3 linked regions of the Homo sapiens genome follow. The protein of the gene in region 2 interacts with the protein of the main gene of each other region in a biochemical or structural test. Each region holds a gene or a part of one and is shown on either strand. Other genes may lie near its edges.

What was found. The genes of interacting proteins can lie anywhere in the genome.
Region 1: the proteins of SF1 (region 2) and ZNF461 form a complex in vitro, tested with the Homo sapiens proteins (one study listed by BioGRID).
Region 3: the proteins of SF1 (region 2) and HDAC5 form a complex in vitro, tested with the Homo sapiens proteins (one study listed by BioGRID).

What each region holds. Positions count from the first base shown.
Region 1 is NC_000019.10:36,641,483-36,650,015, reverse strand, and holds part of ZNF461 (zinc finger protein 461), read left to right. Parts: intron 1-6,153; coding exon 6,154-6,222; intron 6,223-6,241; exon of another isoform or gene 6,242-6,428; intron 6,429-6,449; exon of another isoform or gene 6,450-6,823; intron 6,824-8,533. UniProt on the Homo sapiens protein: May be involved in transcriptional regulation.
Region 2 is NC_000011.10:64,764,106-64,769,082, reverse strand, and holds the end of SF1 (splicing factor 1), read left to right. Parts: coding exon 1-61; intron 62-796; coding exon 797-977; intron 978-1,238; coding exon 1,239-1,512; coding exon of another isoform or gene 1,513-1,516; intron 1,517-1,831; coding exon 1,832-1,891; intron 1,892-2,003; coding exon 2,004-2,183; intron 2,184-2,927; coding exon 2,928-3,265; 3' UTR 3,266-3,564; coding exon of another isoform or gene 3,565-3,694; 3' UTR 3,695-4,477; downstream 4,478-4,977. UniProt on the Homo sapiens protein: Necessary for the ATP-dependent first step of spliceosome assembly. Binds to the intron branch point sequence (BPS) 5'-UACUAAC-3' of the pre-mRNA. May act as transcription repressor.
Region 3 is NC_000017.11:44,084,287-44,092,819, reverse strand, and holds part of HDAC5 (histone deacetylase 5), read left to right. Parts: intron 1-13; coding exon 14-144; intron 145-292; coding exon 293-439; intron 440-535; coding exon 536-648; intron 649-988; coding exon 989-1,120; intron 1,121-1,327; coding exon 1,328-1,550; intron 1,551-4,221; coding exon 4,222-4,433; intron 4,434-5,123; coding exon 5,124-5,408; intron 5,409-6,082; coding exon 6,083-6,248; intron 6,249-7,664; coding exon 7,665-7,798; intron 7,799-8,144; coding exon 8,145-8,265; intron 8,266-8,533. UniProt on the Homo sapiens protein: Responsible for the deacetylation of lysine residues on the N-terminal part of the core histones (H2A, H2B, H3 and H4).

The DNA.
Region 1 (8,533 bases), on a different chromosome or scaffold from region 2:
TTTAGTAGGGACGGGGTTTCACCATGTTGGTCAGGCTGGTCTCAAACTCCTGACCTCATGATCCACCCACCTTGGCCTCCCAAAGTGCTGGGATTACAGGTGTGAGCCACCACGCCCAGCCAGATTATTTTTTAAATACTTTTAATTGAAAAATACAAATTGTATGTATTTATGGTCTACAATATGTTTTGATATATGTATATGTTGTGAAACGATTAAATCTAGCTAATTAACATATCTGTTACCTGACATGCTTCTTTTTTTGTTCTTCCACAATAGTTATCTTATAAACTTATTTTTTTGTGTGTGGGAGAACATTTAACATCTACTCTCCTAGAAGTTTTTAAGTTTACAGTACACTGTTTCAGCCAGGCGTGGTGGCTCAGGCCGGGCGCAGTGGCTCACACCTGTAATCCCAGCACTTTGGGAGGCTGAGGAGGGTGGATTACCTGAGGTCAGGATTTCAAGACCAGCCTGGCCAACATGGTGAAACCCCATCTCTACTACAAATACAAAAAATTAGCTGGGCACAATGGCCCAGCCTATAATCCCAGCTACTCAGGAAGCTGAGGCAGGAGAATTGCTTGAACCTGGGAGGCAGAGGTTGCAGTGAGCCAAGATTATGCCATTGCACTCCAGCCTGGGCGCCAAGAGTGAGACTCTGTCTCAAAAAAAAACATAAATAAATAATAAAATATACTGTTTCAAGAGAATTTAAAATTGATTGGCAAAGCCTTTTTGTGAAGCATGTTTTAAAGTCTTTGTCAGATAATTCCAACATGTGCTTCATCCTTGTATTTGCATTAGTTGATTGCCTTTTCTCCTTCAGATTTTGGTTTTCTTGGTTTTTGGTATGAGAAGTGATTTTCAGTTGTACCTTGGATATTTTCGTTATTATGTTTCAGAGAGTCTTGATTCTATTTAATCAATTTGAGCAAGTAGTTATCCTGTTAGATTTAGTAAAGATCTGATCTACTTTTGTAGGCTTTAGTTCCAATGACAGTTTAGTTTTCAGAACCATTACACTGCTATTCTGATCTGCTCCATACTTCTTGTGCTGCTGGGGCCAACAGGCACATGAAGAGATGTTCAAAATCACTAGCCATTAAGGAAATGCTAGTCACAACCACAATGAGGCTGGGCACGGTGGCTCATGACTGTAATCCCAGCACTTTGGGAGGCCGAAGCAGGTGGATCACTTGAGGTTAGGAGTTCGCGATCAGCCTGGCCAACATGGCGAAACCCCGTCTCTACCAAAAAATACAAAAATTAGCCAGGCATGGTGGCATGCACCTGTAGTCCCAGGTACTTGGGAGGCTGAGGCACAAGAATCACTTGAACCTGGGAGGCGAAGGTTGCAGTGAGCTGAGATTGCACCACTGTACTCCAGCCTGAGTGACAACGAGACTCAGTCTGAAAAACAAAACCAAAAACGAAAACAAAAACAAACAAACAAAAAAGCACACAATGAGATATCACCTCACACTCAATAGGATGGTTAATTTAAAAAAAAAACATAACAAGTGTTGCCAGGAATGTGGAGAAATTTGAACCTTTGTGCACTATTGGTGAGAATGTAAAATGGTACAAGGTATTAGATCATTCTTGCATTGCTGTAAATACCTGAGACTGGGTAATTTGAAAAGAGGTTTAATTGGCTCATGGTTCTGCAGGCTTTATAGGAAGCATGGCCCTGCTCAGCTTCCAGGAAGGCCTCAGGGAGCTTTTATTCATGGTGGAAGGCAAAGCAGGAGCAGGCACTTTACATGGTGAAAGCAGGAGCAAGAGAGAGAGTGGGGGGCGTGGGGAGGTGCCACACATTTTCTTTTTTTTTTTGAAACGGAGTTTCATTCTTGTTGTCCAGGCTGGAAAGCAATGGTGCAATCTCAGCTCACTGCAACCTCCACCTCGGTTTCAAGCGATTCTCCTGCCTCAGCCTCCCGAGTAGGTGGGATTACAGGTGCCTGCCACCACACCCAGCTAATTTTGTATTTTTAGTAGAGACACAGTTTCACCATGATGGTCAACCTGGTCTTGAACTCCTGATCTCAGATAATCTGTCCACCTCGGCCTCCCAGAGTGCTGGGATTACAGGCATGAGCCACCACACCCAGCCCACACACTTTCAAGGACCAGATATCATGAGAACTCACTCACCATCATGAGGATAGCACCAAGGGAATGGTGCTAAACCATTTATGAGAAAACCGCTCCCATAATCCAGTTACTTCCCACTAGGCCCCACCTCCAACACTGGGGATTACAATTCCACATGAGATTTAGAGGGGACACATATCCGAGCTATATCATACAGCCACTATGGAAAACAGTATGGTAATTTCTCAAAACATTAAAAATAGAATTGCCATATAATCAAGCAATTCTACTTCTAGGTATATACGCAAAAGAATTGAAAGTAAATTGAAAGTGGAATTTTAAATTAGAATGTTATTTATTTATTTATTTTTTGCTTTTTTGAGACAGAGTCTTGCTCTGTCACCCAGGCTGGAGTGCACTGGCGCATCTCAGCTCACTGCAACCTCCACCTCCTGGGTTCAAGCGATTCTTCTGCCTCAGCCTCCCAAGTAGCTGGGATTACAGGCACCCACCACCACACCCAGCTAATTTTTGTATTTTTAGTAGAGACAGGGTTTAACCATGTTGGCCAGGCAGGTCTCAAACTACTGACCTCAAGTGATATGCCTATCTCAGCCTCCCAAAGTGCTGAGATTACAAGCGTGAACCACCACACCTGGCCTAAATTAGAAAATTGTTGCATAATGTCAACTACAGCTGAAGAAATTTATATCCTATGATGCAGCAATTTCACTCTGATGTGCATACCTAACAGAAAAGAGTAATTATTTCCACCAAAAGAAATGTACAGGAATGTTCATAGCAGCACTAATCATAATAGTCAACTATTGGAAGCAACCAGAATGTCCATCATTAGGTATATGGGAAAATAAATTGTGTTAGAATGCAATGCTATATATAGTTATCAGTCTCAAACTTTTTATTCTCAGGATGCCTTTATATTCTTAAAAACTATTGAGAACCCCAAGAGCTCTTGCATATGTAGATTATATCCTTCAATATTAACTGTCTTAGAAATTAAATCTAGGAAAAATGAAATATTCATTTAATTCATTTAAAAATAATAAACTATATGTTAACATAAATAAGTTATATTTTCCAAAACAAAACGAAAATAGTTATTGTGAAAAGTGGCAATGTTTTTCATTTTTTGCACGTTTCTTTAATGCTTGGATTAAAAGAAGACACGTGGATCTCACATCTGCCTCTGAATTTAATCTATTAAATTAAAACTCACTAGTCTGTCTTGTTTTTTGAATGGATCTCTTATCTGTGGTACCTGTTTTGTAACATGATGCATTAGTTATTTGGAAAATATTGCTCCAATTAGTTATGCAGATCTTCCAGACTTTGACACATTTTCTTATAAAATAGCCAAAAAATCATACTTGTTAATAACACCACGAATCTAATCAGGTAAGTCTTTAAGTATTTGGAAGCTGTCAAGCTCACAGGGGCTGACACAAACTTTCCTAAAGTCTAATTTTGACCAGGTGTGGCAGCTCATACCTCTAATCCTAGCACTTTGGGAGGCAGAGGAGGGTGGATCACCTGAGGTCAGGAGTTCGAGACCTGCCTGGGTAACATGGTGAAACTCCGTTTCTACTAAAAATACAAAAAATTAGCCGGGCGTGGTGGCACACGCCTGTAATCCCAGCTACTGGGGAGGCTGAGGCAGGAGAATAGCTTGAACCTGGGAGTCGGAAGTTGCAGTGAGCTGAGATCACACCATTGCACTCCAGCCTGGGCAACAAGAGTGAAACTCCATCTCAATCAACAACAATAACAACAACAACAATAACAACAACAACAACAACAACAAAATAGTCAAAATCTGGCCAGGCACGGTGGCTCACGCCTGTAATCCCAGCACTTTGGGAGGCTGAGGCGGGTGGATCATGAGGTCAGAAGTTCCAGACCAGCCTGGCCAACATAGTGAAACCCTGCCTCTACTAAAAATACAAAAATTAGCCGGGCATGGTGGCTCACGCCTGTAGTCCCAGCTACTCAAGAGGCTGAGTCAGGAAAATCGCTTGAACCCGGGTGGTGGAGGTTGCAGTTAGCTGAGTTCGCTCCACTGCATTCCAGCTTGGGAAACAGAGCTAGACTCCATCTCAAAAAAATAAATAAAATAAAGCTTCAGTTATGCAAGATGAGTGGATTCTGAATATCCACATTCAGACTCCAGAATATTATGACTCTAGTTTGCAGTACTGTATTGTATATTTGAAACGTGCTGAAGGTACATGTTTTTTTGTTACCACAAAAAAAAGAAAACAGTTAACTATGTAAGGTGATGAATAGGTTAGTTAGCTGACTGTGGTGATTATTTCACAATGTAAATGTATATCAAATCATCAGGTTGTATCCTTTAAATATATAAATTTTAATTGTCAATTTTCCCTCAATAAAGTGGGAAATAAAGTGTTTCTCAAAAAATACTCAGTGTTTCTCAAAAACAAATATTGAGAAATTTAACTGTGGATGCTATAATTAATATTTATTTACATTGGTGCTGTATGCTAAGAAATAGAAAAAAGTATTTATTAAATATGTAAACACTTTAAAAAATTTTCTTGTGTTGTAAATACTTTACATGAGATCTACCCTCTTAATGGAATTTTAGGTGTACAATGCAGTATTGTCCAGTGTGGGCACAGGGTTATACAACAGATCTTTTTTGTTGTTGTTGAGACAGGGTCTCACTCTGTTACCCATGCTGGAGTGCAGTGGAGTGATCACAGCTCACTGCAGCCTGGACCTCTCAGGCTCAAGCAATCTTCCCACCTCAGCCTCCCAAGTAGCTGGGACCACAGGTACACACCACTACACCCAGCTACATTTCTATTTTTATTTTTTTTTAGTAGAGACAAGGTCTCACTATGTTGTCCAGGCTGGTCTCAAACTCCAGGACTCAAGTAATCCTCCCATCTCAGCCTCCCAAAGTGCTGGGATTACAGATGTGAGCCACCACTCCAGGCCAGATTTTTTAATAATAAAAGTAGTCTCAAAAAATAAACCTGGCCAGGCACGGTGGCTCACACCTCTAATCCCAGCACTTTGGGAGGACGAGGTGGGCAAATCACTTGAGGCCAGGAGTTCAAGACCAGCCTGACCAACGTGGTGAAACCCCGTCTCTACTAAAAATACAAAAAAAATTAGCCGATGTGGTGGCATGTGCCTGTAATCCCAGCTACTTGGGAGGCTGAGGCAGAGAATTGCTTGAACCCGGGAGTCAGAGGCCGCAGTGAGCCGAGATTGCGCCACCGTACTCCAGCCTGGGTGACAGAGCAAGACTCCATCTCAAAAAAAACAAAAACAAAACAAAACAAAAAAAAACACAAAAAACTGGCTGGGCGTGGTGGCTTACGCCTGTAATCCCAGCACTTTGGGAGGCCAAGGCGGGAGGATCACCTGAGGTCAGGAGTTCAAGACCAGCCTGGCCAACATGGTGAAACCCCATCTCTACTAAAAATACAAAAATTAGCCAGATGCGGTGGTTCACGCCTGTAATCCCAGCTATTCAGGAGGCTGAGGCAGGAGAATCGCTTGAACCTGGGAAGTGGAGGTTGCAGTGAGCCAAGATCGCACCATTGCACTCCAGCCCGGGGGACAGAGCGAGACTCCATCTCAAAACAAAACAAAAAACCAATATCCATTTTCAAGTATAAGAAATACATATTCTCTGCTGGGTGTGGTGGCTCACACCTGTAATCCCAGCACTTTGGGAGGCCGAGGTGGGCGGATCACCTGAGGTCAGGAGTTCAAGACCAGCCTGGCTAAGTGGTGAAACCCCGTTTCTACTAAAAATACAAAAAATTAACCAGGCATGGTGGCACGTGCCTGTAATCCCAGCTACTTGGGAGGCTGAAGCAGGAGAATCGCTTGAACCCAGTAGGCGGGGGTTGCAGTGAGCTGAGATTGTGTGATTGCACTCCAGCTTGGGCAACAAGAGCGAAACTCTGTCTAAAAAGAAAAAGAAATAGATATTCTCTTTTTATTGTATAATAAAATATTATTCTAAAATGAAGTATTTATTCTTTTGTTTCCATGTAGGTACATGGAAAACTTGGGGATTTCACAATAATTTCTTGGACAATAATGAGGCTACAGACATAAATGCAGGTATAAATAAATACAGTTTTTAAGAGTACAGTAGAAGTACTGGTAACAAAGTCAGCTAATTTCTGAAAGTACATGTTTATTCCCCAAACCTACTACTCTAGAAACTTCTAGAACACACAGAAATACATAATCACGCATTCTGTTAGATTTCAGAATGTGACGTTATCACACTTCTAGTAGTCTCTCAGAATCTCTCCTGTCCAGTGGTAAGAGAATAAGTAAAAAAGGCAAATGTCTCGGAATTAGTATGAAAATAGCTTTGACCTTATAGACTTCCTGATAGGGTCTCAGGTACCCTCTGTGGTCCTTGGACCACCCATTGAGTACTGCTGCTATATAGTAATGAAAATTAAGAAACTACTACTATTTGTAATATTACAAATGAACCTCACATGTGGTACTGGACAGAAGATGCTGGAGAAAAAAGTACCTCCTATATCATTCCATTTATTGGAAATTCAGAAATAGACAAAAACCACTGCATAGTGTAAGAAGGCAGGATATCGCCTACCTTTGGTGGGTAAGGTAAACCTGGGAAGGGCCTTGAAGGCTTGGGGTTTCTGGTAATGTTCTGTTTCTTGGTTAAGTGGTGGTTTCACAGGTATGTTCACTTAGTAAAAACATCGTCTGTAAGGAAGTGATGTAGAAAAGTGTGTGTTTGTGTTTATATCTGTACATAAATAAGTATGTGTATGAGTGTAGTGGTTGTTGTAAACATGTCCGCTGGCCGAGTGCGGTGGCTCACACCTGTAATCCCAGCACTTTGGGAAGCCAAGGCGGGTGGATGGCCTGAGGTCGGGAGTTCGAGACCAGCCTGGCCAGCATGGTGAAACCCCATCTCAACTAAAACTACAAAAATCTCAACTAAAAATACAAAAATTACAGGTGGTGAGCACCTGTAATCCCAACTACTTGGGAAGCCGAGGCAGGAGAATCACTTGAACCCAGGAGGCGGAGGTTGCAGTGAGCCGAGATCGCACCATTGCACTCCAGCCTGGGCTACAGAGCAAGACTCTGTGCCCCACCCCCCCCCACCAAAAACACACACACACACCATGTCTGCCACTTCTGTGCTTCTGTGACAGTCCTCAAACCAAAAAAAAAAAAAAAAGAAGTCTAACTTCCTGCTTTGAAAATGGGACAGCCCTAAGTGAATTGTTTCCAATAAATAGAAATACTTTGTGATTTCTGAGGCTAGGTCATAAAAGTAGACAGCTTGTGCCTGGCATATGCTCATATGCCCGCCCTCCCTGCCTGCACTTCCCCATATGCTTTTGGAGTCTGGAGTTGCCAGGTAAGAGGGCATCTCTTACCTTGAAACAGCTATGCTGGACACACCATGTAGAGAGACCACATAAGGATAGAAAGCCCCAGGCATCACAGCTGTTACAGTCCCAAGCTTTACATATTTCCTCAGGCCTGGTACCCGACATGTGGGTGGAGGAAGCCATTGGAATGATCCAGCCTGACCAGTGTGTGACTGTCACTAGAGAAATGCCAAGTAAGGAATGCCTGGCTGAGCTCAGTTAATCCTCAGGACTGAAAGACAATAATGATAAATGGGTCTGGTGTGGTGGCTCGTGCCTATAATCTCAGCACTTCGAGGGGCTGAGGCAGGAGAATCACTTGAAACCAGGAGTTCAAGACCGGCCTGGGCAACAAAGTGAGAGCCTTTTCTCTACAAAAAATGATTTAAAAATTAGCAGGGCATAGTGGCACACCCCTATAGTCTCAGCTTCTCCAAAAGCTGAGTGAGGTAGGAGGATTTCTTGAGCTCAGGAGGTCGGGCCTGCAGTGAGCTGTGATTGCACCACTGCGCTCACTCTCGCCTGGGTGACAGAGCATGACTTGGTCTTCACTAATAATTACAACAGCAATAGTAATAATAATAATAAATGACTTACTGTTTTAAGCCACTCAGTTGGAGTGGCTTGTTATAGATAAGCAAGTACATGGTTTATTTATGTATGTGTTTATATATAAAATCAGTGCAGTCGATGTAGGAGTGAATAGAAGCATGGAGAGATGTTCAGTAGTTATTACAAATTTAAGGGCATTAAATGATTATGATTGTCAATTGTTATCTTTGTATTGTTTCTCTTCATCTTAATTCCTTTTCCTTAATAATTCATTCATTCAGCAACTGATTATTGAATACTTATTATATTGTAAAGGTTGTTTTTATAGTGATTTCTCTATCCTTGAGTAGCTTTATGGGTAAAAAAACATATATATATATTATATATATATATATTTTGTTGTTTGTTTGTTTGTTTCTGAGACAGTCTTACTCTGTTGCCCAGGTTGGAGT
Region 2 (4,977 bases):
CCACAGTGTGTACCAAGTGTGGAGGGGCTGGCCACATTGCTTCAGACTGTAAATTCCAAAGGTGAGGGGCTGGCTCTTGCGGTTTCCTGGTAGCCTGCGATGTGCAGGACAACTTTTCTGGCACATTCATTGGTTGCTGTTAATCTTACCAAGAGAAACATCCTTTCTGTTAGTGTGGTCTGTAATGGTGTGATTTAAAGCCCAGGATGATTAGAAATAGGCTGTACAGATACCCCTGTTTGTTTGTCTTGAGCCCAAGAAAACTGGAAGTTTCCATTTTGGGTATGTTTTTACTGGGGCTCAATAGGAAATTCACTGCTTTTGCTGTTCAGAATTGGTTCAAGAAGACTAAGCAATCTCTACAGATTTCTGACCAGTTGCAAGTCAGCACTCGATATCAACACTTTCTGACTGGCTGGCGAATATGTAAGGTTTTGTTTAGGAAGTTCGTTCTGGCAGTTGTGCCAGTCTTGCATAGATTTTCCTTTCCTCAAACTGGGAATGAAGTTTGATGAAATTGACTTGAGAGAACCTGTGCTTCATCGGTGCTCAGGGTCTCCTGTGCTCTTCGCCCAGGGGCCCCTCTACTCTGGTGATCCCAGATGCAGAACTGGGCACGAAACTGAAGATCTGATGAGACTGTTGAGAGCCATGCCCAGTAAGGGGTTAGAAAGATGTGTGATGATCTGGTGATTGAATTCTTCAGAACTTTCCATATGTTGGTTCCTCAGGATAAAAGCTTCCTTCTTAACAAGTTTTTCCCCTTTCTCTGTTTGTGTCCCCCACCCCACTTCAGGCCTGGTGATCCTCAGTCAGCTCAGGATAAAGCACGGATGGATAAAGAATATTTGTCCCTCATGGCTGAACTGGGTGAAGCACCTGTCCCAGCATCTGTGGGCTCCACCTCTGGGCCTGCCACCACACCCCTGGCCAGCGCACCTCGTCCTGCTGCTCCCGCCAACAACCCACCTCCACCGGTGAGCCTGGGGGCTGGCTCTCTTGGTCTGGCTTCCCCATTCTCTACTGCAGAGACTGGGAGCTATGGCCACGTGGTTTGGGTAGAGCAGACAATGGATGTGGATGGCAACATTGTTCTTCCGGGATCTCAGGCCAGTTTGGGGACTTCTCACTTCGGGAAGACCTTGTTCTTGTGTTCTGGTCCTGTGTCATAACCCGAAGAACAATGTTGCCACTAGGAGGCGCAGGCAGGGACGTTGGCAGGAAATGCTCTCACGTAGTCTCTCATGTCTACCACCCAGAGCCGCCCACCCTGGATGAATTCTGGCCCTTCAGAGAGTCGGCCCTACCACGGCATGCATGGAGGTGGTCCTGGTGGGCCCGGAGGTGGCCCCCACAGCTTCCCACACCCATTACCCAGCCTGACAGGTGGGCATGGTGGACATCCCATGCAGCACAACCCCAATGGACCCCCACCCCCTTGGATGCAGCCACCACCACCACCGATGAACCAGGGCCCCCACCCTCCTGGGCACCATGGCCCTCCTCCAATGGGTAAGTAAGTGTCAGACCAGAAACCTTGGGGGCTTTGGGATAAGCAAGGGGTTACGTCAGGTCGCTGTTGGCTAGAAGCAGCTCTCAAGTGGCTGGGCAATGTGCTGGGTCTGCCTGGCTTGCCAGGGTTGTGGCTCTGGAAGGAGCAAGACTCCATTCTGGTTCAGGGAGTGATTCTGTGTTGGGTAAGCACAGACCTGCCTTTTACAGGCATGGTTTTCAGAACTCGCGTAAGGATAGCAACTGAGGTTATCACAGGGGTGGCTTCCCTGGCCAGTTCCAATGTCCTGCTAAGTCCCTGCTCTTTCCTTCCATCAAGATCAGTACCTGGGAAGTACGCCTGTGGGCTCTGGGGTCTATCGCCTGCATCAAGGAAAAGGTAATGGCTGTCTGCTGGCTGTGGGTCTTCACCTAGGCTTGGGTGAGTGGGGGTTCTGGCCCAAGTCCCCGCCTTTCCCTGAGGCCTCATCTTTGCCTCCACCTGTCCACAGGTATGATGCCGCCACCACCTATGGGCATGATGCCGCCGCCGCCGCCGCCTCCCAGTGGGCAGCCCCCACCCCCTCCCTCTGGTCCTCTTCCCCCATGGCAACAACAGCAGCAGCAGCCTCCGCCACCCCCTCCGCCCAGCAGCAGTATGGCTTCCAGTACCCCCTTGCCATGGCAGCAAAGTGAGTAGAATATTTTGGGCTTGTGGGGGTGGGTGGGATGGGGGTGGGGCTGACAGGAACCATAGAGCCTCACACAAGCAGGCAGGTGTCTTGGGATGAGCCCCTGGGCTCTGCTGGGGTTGTAAACAGAAAGGGCCTCCTGGTCCAGGGGGTGGAGGGGCATCTTGAAGAGGAGAGCTGATGTTTGGTGTGGTTGTGTCTGGGGAGAGGTTCGTGGGGGCCTGGAGGGGAGCCTGCTATTGTAGGTAGGGGGCCAGAAGTCCAGACCCTCGCAGGCTGAGTGAGCGGCTGGCTGGACTGAGCCTGGTGCATATGGGTCGAGTGGGATGGTGCATGCTTGCTCTGGCAAGGGCTGCGATTGGGGTGAGAGACTGCAGAGGTGGGACTGGGCAGTGGGGAGACAGCAGCTGTGGCCTTGAGGTTGAATGTGCCGTTCGGTGGTGGCGGCGGCTGGGCGGAGGGACATCAGAGCTGTTCTTGTGTCTGGTACCTTCCCCTCAGCCCTTCCAGGGGCATTGGTGACAAAGGGCTTACTCTGTTAAGCCCAGAGACCTCGAGGCTGACCCCAGGGTAGTCCTGCCCACCCCTCCACTCCCCATCACCAGCCCCGCCCACCCGCCCCCCACCACCGTACCGCATGCCAAGCAAGGAGCAGGCGCCCCTCGCCCCCATCCCAAGGCAGCAGCCGCAGACAGCCGCGGTGTGCCCCCGCGCGTGTGACCTTGGGCTTCTTTACCACCCCAGATACGACGACTACCACCACGAGCGCTGGCACAGGGTCCATCCCGCCATGGCAACAGCAGCAGGCGGCTGCCGCAGCTTCTCCAGGAGCCCCTCAGATGCAAGGCAACCCCACTATGGTGCCCCTGCCCCCCGGGGTCCAGCCGCCTCTGCCGCCTGGGGCCCCTCCCCCTCCGCCGCCTCCACCGCCTGGTTCCGCCGGCATGATGTATGCCCCGCCCCCTCCTCCTCCGCCTCCCATGGACCCTTCTAACTTTGTCACCATGATGGGCATGGGGGTGGCGGGCATGCCGCCCTTCGGGATGCCTCCAGCTCCCCCACCGCCTCCACCACAGAACTAGACTTGTTTTTTAAGAAAATATATATTATATATAGAGAGAATTGGTCTCGTTTAAACACGCCGAACCTCACCATATGGAGCCAGACATTGGGACGCACGCATGTGATTGTGTGTGCACGCATGTGTGTGTGTGCACGCACTGGGCTGGGCCAAGCGACTGAGGATTCGCTTGGGAACGGGCAGGTGGTAGTAGGGGCGCCAGCTTGGGCTCTCCTGGCGCCCCGTAGCATCGAGTGTCTTCTTTGTCTTCTTTCTCTCCTCACCCAACTCCCTTTGCCTCTCCCCAAACCGGGCCGCCAGGATCCCTCCCCGCGGCGGCGATGGCCCGAGCCATGAGAGTGAGGACTTTCCGCGCCCATTGGTGACCCTTCCAGGCAGACAGCCTCAGCAACGCCCCTGGTGGACAGGATGGTTCGGCAAAGCAGCCTGAGTTATTTTTGTGGACGGAATCGGAACACGCTGGCTCCATATCGTGAAATTTTTATTAATTTTTTTCTTTTTCCTTTGTTACTTCTTTATCTTTTCCTTTCTTCAGACTCCGTCCAAGGAGATGCTCTCCCCGGTCTTCTGCTGCAATTTAGATTCCTTTCCCTTCTCTCCAGTTCTCCTTCCCTTACCAAGGAGAGGGGAGCAAATGGTTTTGGGCAAGGGCTTTGGCCATTCATGTCAAGCTGGTTGTGGGTTTTTCAAGGTGCCATAGCCACCCCCAAAGATGTTTGTTTAAAGCGTGGGGTTTTTTAATCTCTGCCACCCTTGTCAAGGGAGTCTTGTAAAGTTGCCGAGGGTAGGTTCATCTCCAGGTTTCGGGATTCCCATCCGTCCTGGCGATCCTGCCAGCAGTGGGTGGGCAGCCTGAGCTCCCTCGGGCTCGCCTGCCAGCCTGGAGTTCTTCCTGTGCTCCTTGATCACCTGAGCTGCCTCAGATTCCATTTGGTCCTCTCCTTCCTGGAAGGCTTCCTTTTATGTTTTGTTTTAATCCCAAATGTCTGAATGTTTTGCAGTGTGTAGGGGTTTGAGCCCCTTGTTCATTCTCCTTCCTTTTTCCTCCCGCTTCCCTCTCCATGAAGTGATTCTGTTGACAATAATGTATACTGCGCGTTCTCTTCACTGGTTTATCTGCAGAAATTTCTCTGGGCTTTTTTCGGTGTTAGATTCAACACTGCGCTAAAGCGGGGATGTTCCATTGAATAAAAGAGCAGTGTGGTTTTCTGGGTCTGCTTCTTTATTTTCTTTTTAATGCCTGCCCCGCCCGGTTTTTCTTTTCACATAAACTTCCTCTACCACCAGCAGCAGCAGCAGCACCAAAGGTGCCTTAACTTTCGTTCAGCACCAGGTCCGGGGGGGTGAGACTGTGGGTGGTTAATTAGGGAAGCCCACCACCTGCCTCCTGTGTGTGGCTTTGGTGGTGGGAGCTCAGTGTGTGGGTGGCTCCACAGTCTCCCCTTTGGTGACTAGTTAACATCGCTGAGAACCAATTTTGCCCCTCCTTGTTCACTGCTCATTTTTCTAGTCTCTGTCCTTTGAAGGCTTTTTCCTGGGGCTCAGACGTCCACGTTTGATGAGCTCCAGTGGTGATTTGTGCCTGGAAGCTGCCACCTAAGGCCCTGGGCCTGGGGAGGCATCAACACTAAAGGTCAAGCCAACTAATCCTGCCTGTCAGGCACAGAGCAGCTAAAATTAAAACCGCCAAGTGGCTTTTTTCCTTCTCTGCTG
Region 3 (8,533 bases), on a different chromosome or scaffold from region 2:
CCCCCCACCCCAGGGGAGCCCACCATGCTTCTTTGGACCAGAGTTCCCCTCCCCAGAGCGGCCCCCCTGGGACGCCTCCCTCCTACAAACTGCCTTTGCCTGGGCCCTACGACAGTCGAGACGACTTCCCCCTCCGCAAAACAGGTGAGTGAGTCCCCCACCTGGCCTCCCAGAATATGGCTCCTGGGAGGCAGAGGTGGGCTTGTGGCAGTGTCAGCCCTGACCCCAGTGGGCTCAGCTGCAGATGTGTGCTGCTGTGCGCGTATCTGAACCTCGGTTACCTTCTCTCCAGCCTCTGAACCCAACTTGAAAGTGCGTTCAAGGCTAAAACAGAAGGTGGCTGAGCGGAGAAGCAGTCCCCTCCTGCGTCGCAAGGATGGGACTGTTATTAGCACCTTTAAGAAGAGAGCTGTTGAGATCACAGGTGCCGGGCCTGGGGGTAAGGGCTGCTCTCATGTACCTGTTCTGAGGGTCTGGGAATCAGGGGTCGGGGGTAGTTCACAGCAGGCCCAGGTGACAGCCACTTCTCCTATAGCGTCGTCCGTGTGTAACAGCGCACCCGGCTCCGGCCCCAGCTCTCCCAACAGCTCCCACAGCACCATCGCTGAGAATGGCTTTACTGGCTCAGTCCCCAACATCCCCACTGAGGTACAGGCCTGGCTGGGGGCTGGTGGGGCGGGGACAGAGTTGCTCCTTCCCATGGAAGAAAGAGTGCAGCTCCTTCCAGTCTGTCTGCCTGAGTGCCCAGCAGAGACCTCTCTGCCCACATGAATAGGCTGGAGGATCCTTGCTTGGACTTAATTGCATTGAAGGGGAATTTGTCCCACAGGACTATGAAGAGCCCTGATGGCTCAGTCTCCCTCAGTGGGAGCTCAGGGTAGAGGGAACTGGGCACCATTCAGAGACCTTGGCCTTGGCCCCAGGTTGCCCTCCCTTGTTGCCTCCCCTTTGTGCACTCTCATGCCTGTCTCTTCTGACTGCTCCCCAGATGCTCCCTCAGCACCGAGCCCTCCCTCTGGACAGCTCCCCCAACCAGTTCAGCCTCTACACGTCTCCTTCTCTGCCCAACATCTCCCTAGGGCTGCAGGCCACGGTCACTGTCACCAACTCACACCTCACTGTAAGTACAGGGCATATACCCCATCTTCCCTCTGGTGTTGAGGTCACAGGTCCTGCATGCCCCCAGCTGGGGTTTTCCCCTTCCAAGGCCCTAAGGGAGATCTGTTGGCCCTACCCAGAGCTTGGGGGGTAGATAGTGGGTAGATGGGGATGCTAGTCCAAAGTTGGCAGGACTGAGGCTGTATAAGCCCCTCCCTTCACCCCCCAGGCCTCCCCGAAGCTGTCGACACAGCAGGAGGCCGAGAGGCAGGCCCTCCAGTCCCTGCGGCAGGGTGGCACGCTGACCGGCAAGTTCATGAGCACATCCTCTATTCCTGGCTGCCTGCTGGGCGTGGCACTGGAGGGCGACGGGAGCCCCCACGGGCATGCCTCCCTGCTGCAGCATGTGCTGTTGCTGGAGCAGGCCCGGCAGCAGAGCACCCTCATTGCTGGTGAGTGGACAGGTAGCTGTGCAAGGGAGGGGGCTAAGGTCAGGACCAACTGTCAGGGATACTCTCCAACCCTGTCACAGTTCCCCTTAGCAGAATCAACAGCATCAGTGATTTCTTCCACATTCTGGAAACATGGGATACCTACAGGATGCCAGGCACTGTTCTTGACAAAATCTGCTGCCATCTTGGCGTTCACATCCCAGAGCAGTGTTGTTCAGTAGAAACATAACACAATCTACATACGTAATTTCTAGCATCCACATTAAAAAATGTAAAAAGAAGGCCGGGCGCGGTGGATCACGCCTGAAATCCCAGCACTTTGGGAGGCTGAGGCGGGTGGATCACGAGGTCAGGAGATTGAGACCATTCTGGCTAACATGGTGAAACCCCGTCTCTACTAAAAATACAAAAAATTAGCCGGGCGTGGTGGTGGGCACCTGTAGTCCCAGCTACTCAGGAGGCTGAGGCAGGAGAACAGTGTGAACCTGGGAGGCGGAGCTTGCAGTGAGCCGAGATCGTGCCACTGCACTCCAGCCTGGGGCACAGAGCGTGAGACTCCGTCTCAAAAAAATAAAAAAATTAAAAGAAGCAAGTGGAGCCACACATGGTGGCTCAAGCCTGTGAGCCCGGCACTTTGGAGGCCAAGGCAGGTGGATCACTTGAGGTCAGGAGCTTGAGACCAGCCTGGCCAACATGGTGAAATCCCATCTCTACTAAAAATACAAAAATTAGCTGGGCGTGGTGGCGGGCACCTGTAATCCCAGCTACTCGGGAGGCTGAGGCAGGAAAATTGCTTGAACCCAGGAGGCGGAGGTTGCAGTGAGCCGAGATCGCTCCATTGCACCCAAGCCTGGGCAACAGAGCGACACTCTGTCTCAAAAAAAAGAGAAGCAAGTGGAATTAATTTCACCACATATATTTAACTCATTATATCCAGAATATTACAATTTCGGTAATACATATGCAGTTATTCTTTCTATTTTTTAATTTTTGTAGAGACAGGATCTTGCTATGTTACCCAGGCTGGTCTTTTTTTCGAGACTGAGTCTCGCTCTGTTGCCCAAGCTAGAGTGCAGTGGCGTGATCTTGGCTCACTGCAACCTCTGCCTCCCGGGTTCAAGCAATTCTCCTGCCTCAGCCTCCCAAGTAGTTGGGATTATAGGCGCCTGCCACCGCGCCTGGCTAATTTTTGTATTTTTAATAGAGCTGGGGTTTCACCATCTTGGCCAGGCTGGTCTTGAACTCCTGACCTCAGGTGATCCGTTCGCCTCGGCCTCCCAAAGTGCTGGGATTACAGGTGTGAGCCGCCATGCTCATCCTTTTTTTTTTTTTTTTTTTGAGACAGAATCTCACTTTGTTGCCCAGGCTGGAGTGCAGTAAGCAGGATCTCTGCTCACTGCACCCTCCACCTCCTGGGTTCAAGCTTCAAGCGGTTCTTTTGCTTCAGCCTCCTGAGTAGTTAAGACTACAGGCGTGTGCCACCACACCCAGCTAATTTTTTTTTTTTTTTTTTTTTTTTTTTGAGACGAAGTTTCACTCTTGTTGCCCAGGCTGGAGTGCAGTGGCAAGATCTCGGCTCACTGCAACCTCTGCCTCTCGAGTTCAAGTGATTCTCCTGCCTAAGCCTCCCAAGTAGCTGGGATTACAGGCATGTGCCACCATGCCTGGCTTAATTTTTTGTATTTTTATTAGAGAAGAAGTTTCACCACGTTGGCCAGGCTGGTCTTGAACTCCTGACCTCAGATGGTCCACCCGCCTTGGCCTCCCAAAGTGTTGGAATTACAGGCGTGAGCCACTGCGCCTGGCCTAATTTTTGTATTTTTAGTAGAGACGGGGTTTCACCATGTTGGCCAAGTTGGTCTTGAACTCCTGACCTCAAGTGATCCACCTGCCTTGGCCTCCCAAAGCGCTGGGATTACGGGTGTGAGCCACCGCACCCAGCTGCCCAGGTTGGTCTTGAACTCCTGGGCTCAAGCCATCCCCCTGCCTTGGACTCCCAAAGTGCTGGGATTACAGGTGTGAGCCACTGTGCCTGGCCAATATGCAGTTACCAATGAGATATTTTGGTTTTTGTTTCATACTCTTTGAAATCTAGTGTATACTTCACACTTATATCACATTTCAGTTTAGACAGGTTGTGTGCAAGGGCTCAGCAGTCACATGTAACTAGTAGCTATGGGACTAGACAGCACAACTTTAGACAGCCCTTAAGTACCAGGGCTGTCTAAAGAGCCCTGGCACCAGAAGAGGTTCTGCTTGAAAGATACATGATCCTGGCCCTAGGGCTTCCTAGCCTGGCGGGATCCACGGGGAGGATCCATGATCAGGGAGGCCTTGTTGCACTTAGGGAGAAAAGTCATTGTTCGTTCAGAGGGCTCAAGACTAAATGTATACTCAGTTTATTCAGTTAAGGAAATCGAAGGGAAAAGATGGTGAATCCAGGAAGGCTTGCTGGAGGTGGTACCTTAGAGCTGTGAAACTCTTCATTCATGGGGAAGAGGAAGAATGGAGCTCAGGTTTGGGTGGGGGGTGCTTCAGGTCCCCCAGGGTTTTTCCTGAGTATATAGGTGGTGATATGCCAGAGGGGGTTGTGGGGGCAAGATGCAGGGTCGGTGGGAGGGCAGTCAGGTGCCCTGACAATGGTGCTTAGTCATCACCCCCAACTCCGTAGTGCCACTCCACGGGCAGTCCCCACTAGTGACGGGTGAACGTGTGGCCACCAGCATGCGGACGGTAGGCAAGCTCCCGCGGCATCGGCCCCTGAGCCGCACTCAGTCCTCACCGCTGCCGCAGAGTCCCCAGGCCCTGCAGCAGCTGGTCATGCAACAACAGCACCAGCAGTTCCTGGAGAAGCAGAAGCAGCAGCAGCTACAGCTGGGCAAGGTGAGCCTGGAAAGGTGAATGGCCTGGGGCTGTGGTGGGGGCAGGACACAGGAGAGTACCAGGCTGGCAGAAAAGTCCTCCTTTCAGGCCAGACACGGTGGCTCGCGCCTGATTGGGAGGCCGAGGTGGGCAGATCGCCTGAGGTCAGGAGTTCGAGACCAGCCTGGCCAACATGGTGAAACCCCCGTCTCTACTAAAAATACAAAAATTAGCCAGGCGTGGTGGTAGGCACCTATAATAATCCCAGCTACTCGGGAGGCTGAGGCAGGAGAATTGCTTGAACCTGGGAGATGGAGGTTGCACTGAGCCCAGATCGCACCATTGCACTGCAGCCTGGGTGAGAAGAGCGAGACCGTCTCAAAAAAACAAACAAAAATTAGCTGGGCGTGGTGGCGTGCGCCTGTAACCCCAGTCACTGGGGAGGCTGAGGCAGGAGAATCGCTTGAATTTGGAAGGCGGAGGTTGCAGTGAGCCGAGATCGTGCCACTGCATGCCAGGCTGGGCGACAGAGGGAGACTCTGTCTCAAAAAAAAAAAAAGTCCTCTCAGAGGAGCTACCTCACCTTTTTCTAATTCACATAGAAGCTCTACCTGGAAGAAGGGAGGGAGGGAAGGATAGACTGTTCTGGGTTTTAGGCTGCACAGCTGCTCCCCAACTCCCAGCTGATGTGCCCCCATATTCTGTTATCAGATCCTCACCAAGACAGGGGAGCTGCCCAGGCAGCCCACCACCCACCCTGAGGAGACAGAGGAGGAGCTGACGGAGCAGCAGGAGGTCTTGCTGGGGGAGGGAGCCCTGACCATGCCCCGGGAGGGCTCCACAGAGAGTGAGAGCACACAGGAAGACCTGGAGGAGGAGGACGAGGAAGACGATGGGGAGGAGGAGGAGGATTGCATCCAGGTTAAGGACGAGGAGGGCGAGAGTGGTGCTGAGGAGGGGCCCGACTTGGAGGAGCCTGGTGCTGGATACAAAAAAGTGAGCCCCGTCCCTGGTCCCAGTCCTTGGTCACCACCCCTCTGTCCTTCTCCACCCCTGCCTCTGCCCTTGTCTTTCCCTCTCCCCCATCTGCAGTTTCCAGGCTGTGCAGGAGCAGCTTTCTGTAGAGAGCAAAAGGGGAGTGGGAAGGAGGCCGGTGGGGAGAAGGGGGAGCTGTTTGTGTTGATCTCAGAGTTGTGTCTGTCCTAGGCTGCCAGTTCCCTCCCTGTGTCTGTGATACTGGCCTGCCTCTCTGCTTGTGTGTCTGTGTATGCATGCGTCGGTCCCTGTGCGTGCCTGTGCGTGTGTGTACACACACGCCCCCGCTGTTACTACTGTCTGCCTCGCGCCTAGCTGGCACTCCATTCATTGCGGACACAGCCGAGCCCTCCGGGCCTGACTCATCCCGCCCCCACCCCGCCCCCGCCCCCACCCCTCCCAGCCTCTTACCTCAATGCTACTCTTTGATGTGACTCATCACATCTCCCCCATCCCTCCCCATCTCAGAGGAGATGTGTCTCCTGTCCCTGGAGGGAGCAAGTGGGAGGAGGTGGGGGAAGGAGACTTGGAAGAAAAGGGCTGGATTGGGGCCCCACTGGAGGCCCTGACAGGGCCTGCCCTCACCCCTGTCCTGGCTGAGTCTGACCCAGGCCCCCTCCCATTCTCCCCTCCAGCTGTTCTCAGATGCCCAGCCGCTGCAGCCTTTGCAGGTGTACCAGGCGCCCCTCAGCCTGGCCACTGTGCCCCACCAGGCCCTGGGCCGTACCCAGTCCTCCCCTGCTGCCCCTGGGGGCATGAAGAGCCCCCCAGACCAGCCCGTCAAGCACCTCTTCACCACAGGTGAGCCCCCACCAACTGTTAGGTCCTTCTGCCAGGCACCAGAGGGCCTGTGTGTGGTGTCTGCCCCATGGCAGGGGGAAGAGGCTGCTGGGGCCCCTTAGGCACCCTGAAAGGAGGGGACACAGGCCTTCGTTCTCTCCCTGTACCCCAGAGCTGTTCATGGTAGCGGCAGGGCCTTCTGCCTCAGCCGGGAGAGTGGGTAGCGTCTTTCTCACCCCGCTGAAGGAAGGACTGCCCCACAGCCTGAAGTGCTGGGTAGAGAGAGCCTGCTGTCCCTGTTGGGCCCTGACCTTCTACCTTCCCTTCCTTCTCCCTGTGAGGTCTGGGATGAGACCAGAGTCCTCTTCCCTATGAAGCTGCCACAGGCTGGGCTCTGGGGGGACACAGACGTGCCTGAGGGTGGCCCTGTATCACCCGTGGAGAGTAAGACACGGGTTTGGCAGGAGGGGGAAAGCAGGAGGTGCCGTGAGAAGGGTGCAGCTGAGGAGGCACAGCTGGCAGAGATGAGACTCATGCGAGTGTCCAGGGCAGCCTTGCTGGGGCTTGAGGAGCAGGGAAGCTTCTGATAGGCAATAATGGAGCAAAGGAATTTCAGGAGGAGTCAAGAGGGGGCAAAGGCTGGAGAGGAAAGGCCAGGTGCAGTGGCTCACACCTGTAATCCCAGCATTTTGGGAGGCCAAGGTGGGAGGATCACTTGAGCCCAGGAGTTTGAGACCAACGTGAGCAACATAGTGAGACCCCGTCTCTTTAAAATAAAAAATAAAAAAATAGGTTGGGTGCAGTGGCTCACGCCTGTAATCCCAGCACTTTAGGAGGCTGAGGTGGGTGGATTACCTGAGGTCAGGAGTTCGAGACCAGCCTGGCCAACATGGTAAAACCCCGTCTCTACTAAAAATACAAAAATTAGCCAGGCGTGGTGGCACATGCCTGTAATCCCAGCTACTCGGGAGGCTGAGGCAGGAGAATTGCTTGAGCCCAGGAGGCAGAGGTTGCAGTGAGCCGAGATCGTGCCACTGGACCTGGCCGACAGAGCGAGACTCTGTCTCAAAAAAAAACAAAAGAAAAGCTAGGTGTGGTAGTGCCTATAGTCCCAGCTACTCAGAACGCTGAGGTGGGAGGATCGCTTGAGCCCAGGGTGGTGGGGGCAGTGGTTGAGGCTGCAGTGAGCCATGATAGCACCACTACACACTCCACTCCAGCCTGGGTGACAGAGTGAGACCCTGTTTCAAAGAAAAAAAAAAAAAAGCTGGAGAGGAGAGGGGGCAGGTTTGTGGCAGGGTGGCTGCAGTGGCCATGGGGAGGTGTTTGGACCTGGGGGTTGGAGACAGCTCCATGAGCCCTGCTGAGGATCATGGTAGCCAGGCTGGGATCCTGGGCCCAGAGCAGTGCTGGCTGACACATAGGTCTGTGGCCCAGGTGTGGTCTACGACACGTTCATGCTAAAGCACCAGTGCATGTGCGGGAACACACACGTGCACCCTGAGCATGCTGGCCGGATCCAGAGCATCTGGTCCCGGCTGCAGGAGACAGGCCTGCTTAGCAAGTGCGAGGTAAGGGAGCCCCTCCTTCTTCTGGCTCTCAACTTAAATCCAGCCTTTGTTTCCCTGTTAGATAAGCCTCTCTTCATGCTTCTTCCTCATCCTCTCTTCAGCCCCAGACTTCGGGGCCAGTTCTCCCACCACCCCGTTCCATCCCTTGCAGCCTGTTTTCCCCCATGGTCCCCAGCTGAGTGGGGGGGATCCGGGAGTAAGGTCATGACAGAGCCAGGATCTACTTTCTGAAAATATTTGGATCTCCTGAGGCCAGGAAGTGGCTCTGTGTGCCCTGGCTATGGGGCAGAGAGGCTCTGAGAGAGCTGTGCCTTTGTGTGACCCCTCTTACTGATCCTCCTGGCAGCGGATCCGAGGTCGCAAAGCCACGCTAGATGAGATCCAGACAGTGCACTCTGAATACCACACCCTGCTCTATGGGACCAGTCCCCTCAACCGGCAGAAGCTAGACAGCAAGAAGTTGCTCGGTGAGCTGGCACATGGGTGGGCGGGCAGGCATGTTCAGTGTCAGGGTGGGATGGGGGCTCTCAGGAAGACTGCCTGACCAGGCTAGGAGGGTTGTCCCCACGGGCATAGGGCATTGCTGCGGCAGAGGTGGCACAATTATCACGTCACACACCTCCAGAGGGCGCCACTAAAATAGAGCATGCTGTGGGGCGCGGTGCAGGAGGATGGAAGTGCTCGGTTGGGGGGACTGCTTTGTTCCCCTCCTCCACGGCTTATCATGCTCCTCTC